Regions from separate parts of the Homo sapiens genome. Here region 1 is linked to region 2. The links come from fine-mapping of genetic effects on gene expression. Tissue or cell type: tibial nerve. Region 2 holds a variant in brackets; the other region holds the start of a gene. All regions are shown on one strand. Distances are between the middles of the regions.

Region 1 (5,146 bases), 250 kb after region 2:
ACACATACACACACACAAGGAATTCTGGTGGCAGTGAGGGGGTGTCTTACTGGGGAAAGGAGGACAGGGTCGGGGAAATCTTTCTTGCTGAAACTATTAGGATTCTTGAAGGTTCATTAGGTAGGTTGGATATACAAGGGGAATTGGGCACAAGGTCAAAGCACTATAATACAGAGAGTATGTGAAGAATGGGCCTCCCATTAATGGGTCACACGAGCATGGACCTCTCAGGGTAGCATACCCTGTGTTTCATCTGTGATACCTGATTCATCTGTGTCCTCCAAGCAGAGGAAGAGGGTTTAGCTAAGCAAGGAGGTTCTTTCTGGAAAGTGGAAGTCCTGAAGTGGGTAGTGACCCTTGACTTTGGATAAGGTGTATGGCAGGACACCTTGGGTGGGGATAAGAGTGCTGCTGCGAAGTTATCTTTAAATAAGCACACGCCATAGCCATCCTGGGAGTCAAGCTCCCTCCCACCTGCCCTACACTAGAGGTCAAGTGTGGGCTATTTCAGTTTCCTCCTCTGCTCTGATGAACTGTCTGCAGGAGAATGTTTCCAGACAAAGGTCTTGATAGCAGGTTGGTTTTCCCCGTGTCTCCAGCCTCCAACTACTGAGAGCAAGTCTCCAAACCCAAAAGCTCCTGTCAACAGCCTTCTTCCCAAGTTCCAAAAGCAAGGGCCCTTCACTGTCCCGGGACCCTACCCATCCCTAGCCTGTGATGCTCTCTCTGGAGGTGCCAAAGCACGGGAGTGCATGAGTATTCCAGAGGCAATATTGGAACCTGAGGCAAAAAGGAAAATTAGCACCTCTATATCCACTTATGACAATATCCTCCTACATTTGAATTAGGTAAAAAGTTAATAAAAGCTCTGCATTCAGTGAACGTGACTACATCTGAAGCCAGAGTTGCTCAATCTGTTGCATGCCACTGTCAACTCTCAAACCACCAGGCAAGGGAACAAACAAATGGGGAGGTGGGGGAGGGAGACTGGATATGACTGTTCCCATTGAACAATGAAGCAGGGTTCTTTTTTTTTAGACAGAGTTTCACTCTGTCACCCAGGCTGAGTGGAGTGGCACAATGTCGGCTTACTGCAACCTCTGCCCCCAGGTTCAAGTGATTCTCCCACCTCAGCCTCCCGAGTAGCTGGGACCACAGGCACATGCCTTCAGGCCCAGCTAATTTTTGTATTTTTAGTAGAGATGGGGTTTCACCCTGTTGGCCAGGCTGGTCTTGAACTCCTGACCTCAAGTGATCTGCCTGCCTTGGCCTCCCTAAGTGCTGGGATTACAGGCATAAGCCACTGCACCCGGCCTATGAAGCAGGGTTCTAACAACACCCACCTGTATTTAAAATGTTGATTTTTGCTTATCATGAATTTTTTACATTCAATTTGGTTTTGTTAAAAAGATTGTATTAAAATACTATTTATCTTAATGATGGAGTGCTGCCCTGTGTGTTTCTTTTTTCCCAGTAAGCCCTTTGCACTCCCAGCAAGTGTTTCTTTTTGCTTCAGTATTTACAGTCCTTTTGGTCGAAGAGTACTCTGATGTTTCCTTACCGATGACAGCGTGTTCCTAAGAAACCCCAATGTGCCCAAAACCGCGCAAGGAAGTGCCGCTACACTGCGGAATTAGGAAAGCCCCAGGGATTTAAGAGCTCTGAGAAGACAGGCGCCTCTCAGGGCCCAGGGGACCGATCTTGCCCTGTATTTCTTGGCAACATATCATAGGCTTTCAAGCTGAACTTCTGCAAATCCTGCTGTCCCCGCGCGGTCGAGGGGCGCGCCACCGCCGGTGGGTGGACGCCGAGCTGGTGGGAGCCCAGGCCAAGGGTGGAGGCCAAGCCCAGAAGGGGGCGGGGAGGCCTCAAAGTGGGAAAGTGGCCCCGTCCCTTCCCGGCAGGAATCCGGGGCTCCTCCTCCGCCCGCTGCGCAGCCATCAATCACCGCGACAGCCCAAGTGCCCCCTGCCCGGACACAACAACCCTCCTGCTTTTCCACCCGGGGGAGGAAATCTCCGGTCGGAGCATCTGCCCTGCACACTGGCTGGACTCACCAGTGGGGTCCGCGCTGGGGATCAAAGCTGTGCGACACCGGGTCTGACCCGCGCGCTCAGGCGCAGGGAGCACTTGACACCCCACAGGCAGCCCTGCAGGTAGAACTCCTCAAAGGTCCCTACCAAACTCCGTCCGGTGCACACGCACGCACACCCGCACCTCCGCACCTCGAGCCATAGTGCCTGCACCCTCCAGCTGTCCCTCACCCCAGCCCCGCACAGGTCAGCTGAGGACACCCGGTGACCCTGCCGGGACCAGCGGCCACCTCGCGCTCCGGAATGTCACTCTGCCCCTTGTCCCCACTCCCTGATCCCCCTTCCCCCTTCCGTTCCCCACGATCCCCGAGGACGCGCTCTGGCTGTCTTCCTCAAGTCCCCTCCGGAGTAGGGAGAGAGTGCGCACAGCAGCACCCACGTCTGGAACCCCAGAGAGCCCCGCCCGTGCCCGGAGCCTCTCCGGGCTCTCTAGGTGCGGGCACAGGGGGTGGGGTCTCCGCTGCCACCGCCCCTTACCTCTCGCGGGCCCTCCCCGCAGGTCCCGGAGGCGGGGGCGACCGGTGGCCCCAAAGACGAGCGCGGGGCTGGGTTTCCCCGCCCGGGAGGAGCAAGAGGAGGAGGAGGAAGAGGAGGAAGGGGGAGAAAGGAGGGGAGGGGAGGGGAGAGGAGAGGAAAGAGGAGGAGGGGAGGGAAGGGCTTTGTGTTTGCCTCGGGCCGTCCCTCGGCAGTAGGGAGCCATCCCCCTCCCCCAGCCACCTTCCTGAGCTCGCAGAGGAGATGGGGCGGGGGTGATCGGATCGGAGGCAGCGACCAAGGCGCCTGCGCGACCCCAGGTCCGGCCCATCCCTCCATTCCCTGTAACCGCCAGCCTCCGCCCCTCTTGACAACCACCCGCTACGCTTACCCTGTTACAAGGAACCCAGGCTGCAACCAGGAAAAACTGCCATCAGAAAGTTTATCTAAGCCGGAGCAAACTTGGCTGGACCGGCCCCTGACCCGCCTTGGCGCTGCCGCCCCTGTCTTCTGCGGTCCCCGGCCAGGCGAGGACCAGAGTTTTGTTCTCGGAGATTCTTGCCTTTCTTGTTTTAGCACAAACGCGCACGCACCCCTTTCCCATAACGAGCCCCTCCGCCCAACTACAGATCCCGGGATCTGTTGCAGGGGCTGGAAAGGCCCCACTCGAGAGGCCTGAGCTGGCTGCGGCTCTTGGTTCCGGGGCAGGTTCTCCAGGGTTGGATACGCTCTGGACGCCTGGGCGGGTTGTTTTGCTTCGGCCTCGCTGGCCAGGGGCCCGCCCACCCCGCCTGGAACGCGGTTTGGATCGGCGCTGGGAGCCCTCCGTAACCCCAGCTGAAGGCCGCGCAGGCAGGCGGGGACGCCGGAGCTGCGGGGCCGGTTCCCAGCCAGCATCCAGCCTTTTCGGAATCAGGCGGGTCCCTGGTGATTCGCTGGGTTTTCCCACTTCCCACGGGGACCTCACCTTTGGGAATTAATTGCTGACAGTGTTAGAGTTACAAAGTAGCCAGTGTCACGGAGGGAACCTCAAAGAGACAAAGGGACACCTCGAAGGTGTCAGAGAGACGGTTGTTTTGGACAGAAACAGAACAGCGAAGCGGAAAGAAAACAGACCTTATTTCTGTTCTGTTCCACTTCAGATAGTAGCAGAGGAGACTTGGATTTCATTGGTGTTGGTTTTCGTGATTCCTGCCTTCTAAAATCCCAAGACTTATTTATCATTTATCATCAGCTCAGATCCCAGGAAAACAGTCCACTGCACTTCGGTTTCTGCTCCAAGTCACCCATTAAATAAATAATTGAACACCTGCTGGTGCCAGGCGCAGTTCTAATGCTTGGGATATGTCGGTGAACAAAGCAAAGGTCTCCCTCACCTGGGGGAGCTGAAGGCCTGCGGGGAAGAAGTGGGAGACAGAGGGTAAACCATGGCCATCCCTAAGTAAATTATTTGGGGTGTTGGAAGAGGTCGGTGATAGGGAAAACAAGAAAAAGAATATGGGGGCCCAGAGTGCTTGTGTCTGGAGCAGGTCACAGAATTAAATAGATGGTGTGTGTCAGGCCTCTGAGCCCAAGCCAAGCCATCGCATCCCCTGTGACTTGCACGTATACATCCAGATGGTCTGAAGTAACTGAAGATCCACAAAAGAAGTAAACATAGCCTTAACTGATGACATTCCACCATTGTGATTTGTTCCCGCCCCACCCTAACTAATCAATGTACTTTGTAATCTCCCCCACCCTTAAGAAGGTTCTTTGTAATTCTCCCCACCCTTGAGAATGTACTTTGTGAGATCCACCCCTGCCCACAAAACATTGCTCTTAACTTCACCGCCTATCTCAAAACCTATAAGAACTAATAATAATCCACCACTCTTTGCTGACTCTCTGTTTGGACTCAGCCCACCTGCACCCAGGTGAAATAAACAGCCATGTTGCTCACACAAAGCCTGTTTGGTGGTCTCTTCACACGGACGCGCATGAAATTTGGTGTCGTGACTCAGATTGGGGGACCTCCCTTGGGAGATCAATCCCCTGTCCTCCTGCTCTTTGCTCTGTGAGAAAGATCCACCTACGACCTCAGGACCGACCAGCCCAAGAAACATCTCACCAATTTCAAATCCAGTAAGCGGCCTCTTTTTACTCTCTTCTCCAACTTGCCTCACTATCCCTCAACCTCTTTCTCCTTTCAATCTTGGCGCTACACTTCAATCTCTCCCTTCTCTTAATTTCAATTCCTTTCATTTTCTGGTAGAGACAAAAGAGACACGTTTTATCCGTGGACCCAAAACTCCGGCGCCGGTCACGGACTGGGAAGGCAGCCTTCCCTTGGTGTTTAATCATTGCAGGGATGCCTCTGTGATTATACACCCACGTTTCAAGGGTGTCAGACCACGCAGGGACGCCTGCCTTGGTCCTTCACCCTTAGCGGCAAGTCCTGCTTTTCTGGGGAAGGGGCAAGTACCCCAACCCCTTCTCTCCTTGTCTCTACCCCTTCTCTGCCTTTCCTGGGGCAGGGGCAAGTACCCCTCAACCCCTTCTCCTTCACCCTTAGCGGCAAGTCCCGCTTTCCTAGGGGC
Region 2 (5,146 bases):
GCCAGCCAAATCAGGTTGAGAATGCATGCTTGGTTAGGTGTCAGTGGTCTTGGTTAGGCAAAGGTGTTACTTCTCGCAGGTGTGTTTTTATATTAAAATCCAGATTTTGATCTAAACTAGTAGTTTTCACAGCAGAAGCACCTTGGAAGTTTAAAATAAATATGGCTGGCTGGGTCGCCTCTGCAGAGATTCTGATGGTCTGGGCAGCTGGGGCATTGGGAGTTTTAAAAGGCTCCGGGTGACTTCAAGCTGACAGCCAAAGCTGAGAGCCACCTATTCAAATGGAACAACGGACACTGGGTCTTGGTGACAGATAGTGTGGGCGGGTAATGTTTGCAGTGGGGCCGGGTTCACACTTTTTGAGTCTCTGGTTGGAACTGAAGAAACAAACTGTGAAAAGGATCAGAGCCTGCTTTTTGGCAAGGAGGCTTGGAATAGAGTTAAGAGCACCCTCAAACCTACTACGTGAGGGAAAACCCAGCCCACAGAATCATGGTGGGGAAATGGGAAGAAAGGGAAGCAATGGAGCTAATTATGTGTAGTGATATTTCCCCCAGGAAACCGAAGGCTGGTTACAGAGGTGAAGGCCGTCTAGGAGCTCCTCCCTGGCCACCCGTGGTCCTCAGGTTCTGAGCCCCTCTCCACAGGTGGCAGGATCTGACCACCCCCGTTCCCCAGCAGTGAGAAATGAGGGCTGGCTGTAGTAGTTCTAATGTGTGCACTCAAAGGAAATACTCAGATTCATTAATGTAATGATAGTCTAAGTGTCTTACATGCAGCCTCAGAGTTCAGGCAAATTTTACTTTTAAATGGGAGAATTTATAGCAGACTCGAGATAAGAAACTCTGCCCCCATCTCCACCCCCAACCACCTCACTCCAACTGAAGCTTCTCCAGGGAGACTTCTGAGGGGAGGCCTTGGTTACACTTTCTCAGAAATTTGGGAAGCTGAGGGGGGTAGATCCCTTGAGTTCAGGAGTTTGAGACTAGCCTGGGCAACATAGTGAGACCTCACCTCTACAAAAAATAAACACAAATTAGCTGGGCATGGTGGTGCACACCTGTAGTCCTAGCTAGTCAGGAGGCCGAGGTAGGAGGATTGTGCTTGAGCCCAGGAGGTTGAGGCTGCAGTGAGCCGAGATAGCACCACTGCATTTCATTTCAGCCTGAGTGACAGTCACACCTTGTCTCAAAAAAAAAAAAAAAAAAAAAAAGGTTACATGCCCAGACCTTTCAGAATAATTATATATATTTTTAACTTCCCATACCTACATTTCTTCCAAAGCTAGTATTCATGGGGGAAAGGTTTGTGCCAACTGCCACCATTTTTGATGTTGGAGTAAAATCGATCTTTTTCTAATCAGAACCTGTTTCTTGAGACAAATGCCAGATGTTTTCCTCCTCCCTCCCTCTCTGCCTTCTTTTTTTTTCTTTTTTTTCTTTTTGAGACTGAGTCTTGCTCTATTGCCCAGGCTAGAGTGCAGTGTCCTCATCTCAGCTCTCTGCAACCTCCGCCTCCTGGCTTCAAGGGATTCTCCTGCCTCAGCTTCCCGAGTAGCTGGGATTACAGGTGCCTGCCACCATGCCCGGCTAATTTTTGTATTTTTAGTAGAGATGGGGTTTCACATGTTGGCCAGGCTAGTCTTGAACTCCTGACCTCAAGTGATTCACCCACCTTGGCCTCCCAAAGTACTGGGATTACAGGCATGAGCCACCGCGCCTGGCCCCTCTCTGCCTTCTTTCCTTCCTTTCCTTATCACGTATTTAGGATTTTGCAATGTTAGGCGATTTCTTTCCCATATTTCCAACTGAATTAGAGTTAACCAAATGACAAAAAGTACTTTTGGTCTCAAATTCACCATCATGAAAATGGGCCGAAAAAATGAGGACACTTAGAATTTTACTATCAGATACTGCCAGATGATTAAAATGCCTGTGTTCCACACACACTGTGCCCTTCGGAGTCCTTCTTGTGCTGTTTCTGTTTCTCTGAGACTGCTGGTAGGAGACCAGGAGTGACTAGGTGTGACCAGGCATGACGGCATGAGCAGGCGTTAAAGATTGGAGCGCTGCCTCATTTCAAGTCTCTTAAAGAAGATGAAGGTAACAGCTGCCCAATGAGGACGGAACCGCATTTGTGAATGGAAGCATTCATAGCTGGGTTTCCTGTCCTTTGTATTTTCTTATAGATCTGAAGTTGTAACCTCCACATAATATGAACTACTTCAACAGTTTCTATTTCTATTCTGTGTCCCGGGGGTGTGGGGGTGGTACTAGAGTGAAAGTATTTGGCAGCGCATGCAACATAAAAAAAAAAAAAAATCCCTTCCTTTGGCCGGCGTTCAACTTTTATAACATGTTTTTATTTTTACTTTTTTGTAGGGGGAAGACAGGGTTGCTCTGTCGTCCAGGCTGCAACGCAGTGGCGGGATCATAGCTCCCCGCACCCTCAAACTCCTGGGATCAAGCGATCCTCCCACCTCAGCTATAATGTATTTTTAAATTTGGAAATGCGTTCTCCTCTTCCTCCACCCAGCATGTATATTTTTACTCTCCTCTTATTCCCTCCAACCTTCACCCAAGTCTGTTTCCTGGCAATTTGAGAAGTGAGAAATGCCTGCGTGGGGGAAAAAGTGGAGGCACATGTTGTGTTGTAATTTTAACGGGGAAACATTGCCCAATGACAAAACCAGGGACCGTCTTGTGATG[T/C]TGCTTTCTGCCCACGCTACCTTTTCCTCTTCTGAGCCCGCTCTCGTCCCACCGAAGGCTGCAAGGCTGCCTCGCATCCAGAGGCTGTGACCTGCTTTAAATCAACAAAGCATGATGATCTTAGTTTGAAGAGTTGGGAGGACAACCATATGGATTGAGCTGTCATCTTTTGGTCCGTTGTAAATATCAAAAGCAGGCAGCCCATTCAATTCTCATTCTGATCTTTACGGATCTCTCCCACTGATGAGTTAGAAACCCTTCTAAACTCATGTTTTCCTTCCTTCAGCCAGCAAGGATTTATTGAGCACTTACTATTAATATATGCCAGGCACCCTTCCAAGCATGGGGAGTATGGCAGCGAGGAGTCCAAGCCTCTGCGCTATCAATTTTGCAACAGCACTGAACTGTCACCCAGGGCATTGCAGAGGTTACGTGAGGACAGGGTGGGGCTGTCTGCAGGACCCCAGCTAACTCCGGGTTCAAATTACCTGTGATTTGCTCTAAGTCCCACTGAGCCAAGTACAGCACTAGATAACAATGAAAACACTTTCAGGTGGGAGGATGATCTTTTCCTTCTGCTCCTTAACTTTTGCCCCATATCAGGAGGAGCTTCTGAGAAATGTGAGCTTTTCTGCTCACCCCCACGATACATTGTCTAACCACAAACCCTGGTTCGGATTTCATCTGTCCATGACACTGCGTGGTGCATGAATATATTCTTACTCTAAAGAAAAAAAAAAACAGCCAAAGGATATTTCAAAAATTATTTTCACACATGATTATCATACAGTATTACAATGTATTATGTGCAAAATTCCATTTAAAAAATCATTTACAAAAGTACAACACAGTATGTGCTGAGGGTTCTAGTTCAACAAAAGCCAAGGCTAAAAAAGGTACAAGGTACAAAGCCAACCAAATGAGATGACTATGCATCTTTACACAGTACAATAACATGTTTTTGTAACTACCTGTGTTACGTGGATACAAGACCCTCATAGTTTGTGCACCTGCAAACTGGTTTTATTTAACATAAGTTTAATTTCACTGCAGGTTCTGATAATGTAGATTGATTTTTTTGTGCATTTTCAAATTCTTCTCCATTATATAGCATCTTATTTAACTCAACAAAAGCCACATTATACATTACTTGGTTTCTGGTCCCAATAATTTGATGCTGTTAAGTTTTAATTTGTATGGAAAAGGGAGAAAAGTGTTCTTCTTGATTTTTATTTTCCTCAAGGGGCTTTCAAAATTGTTTCTACAAGCAAATCACACATGGAATAGATTTTGCCAAACCTCACTGCATATTTACAGTATTTTAAGCATAGGTGGTTCCTTCTATCTCTTTTTCTACATCTTTTGAAGAGCCTGAACCAGCAGACTGCACTCCTCAGTCCTTTGTTAGAGTTCATATTTCTCTCTCTACCTCTCTCTACATTCATTTCTCTCCTTATTCTCAGCATCATTTGTTTAAAAAACAAAACAGCAAAACACCACTAAACGTGAACAAGAGAACAGTACATCCGATTTCCAAAGGCATTCTGTGGCCAGTGTCAGGAATACGTTGCTTTAAGAAATCCAGCAGTCTCTCCCCACAAAGTTGCCAAAACATCCAGTTACAGAAGAGAGACTTTAAAAATGCAATACTCTCAAATCCAGCAAGAGATTTATTTTTGAATATTAAATGTTAAAATCACATGCATAATTATAGAATATTTTAAAGTTACAAAAATATTTTAAAACCAATCCTGACAGTTTACCTGCAACTGCTATAAAAATTTCTATGAAATATATAAAAACATGAAGGCTCTTTGTAAAAAAAAAAAAAAAAAAAAAAAAAAGGAAAAAGAAAGGAAGGAAGGCAGGGATGAAGCCATCCACAGGAGTGAGAATCACCTGACGCACTGCATCGCAAGCATCTGCTGTTGAATTCAAAAGAACTTGTATCTTAAGTGTTTCTTCTGCACATATACATACCTGTAAGCCAACCTAGAACCTGACTGGGGGTAGGTAGCAAACAATCTCAGGACACTTGAACCATCAGATGCAATTCTCCATTGCCAAAAGAGAATCCTACTGTTTCACAAACCTCAGCTACCTTGCGTGGCTAAAGTTGCCCTTGGCCGAGTTGGCCTGTGGATGGCTTAGTCACTACACTGAGGGGTCCCCGAGGAGGTGACTGCTTTTCAAGCTCAAGCATGTAGAAGCGGGAAGGCAAGGCTTCCAGCTCCCCTTTGGATGCACCACTGGGAAGTCCCGCCTGTCTTCTAGGAGGTGGTGAGGTCTTCTTCCCCGTTCTGGAAAATGATGCCATAAGGATCGTTCTTGATGCGTTTGTAGACAAAGTGGAAGATGTGGGGCTGTGGTCGGCTGTGCAGCTCCGCCTTGATTTTTTGAGGGTAAGTGTCCTCTGCCAGCTGCTGCCATGTCTCGTC

Evidence for each region. PIP is the estimated chance that this variant, and not a neighbour inherited with it, causes the effect.
Region 1: it holds the start of RIN2, and the variant in region 2 is fine-mapped to the expression of RIN2 in tibial nerve (GTEx, PIP 0.98). The same link has a PIP of 0.9 or more in lung.

Annotation. Positions count from the first base shown.
Region 1 is chr20:19,755,752-19,760,897 of GRCh38, reverse strand. It overlaps RIN2 (Ras and Rab interactor 2), which reads right to left and starts at 2,640. Exons shown (of 13, transcript NM_018993.4): 1 at 2,571-2,640. RefSeq lists an enhancer at 1,677-2,251.
Region 2 is chr20:20,000,769-20,005,914 of GRCh38, reverse strand. It overlaps RIN2 (Ras and Rab interactor 2), which reads right to left. Exons shown (of 13, transcript NM_018993.4): 13 at 3,459-5,146. The coding sequence ends at 4,979. Among named protein-coding and RNA genes, the nearest start is that of NAA20, 14 kb to the left of the region's middle. The variant T/C (reference allele first, on the strand shown) is at 2,709.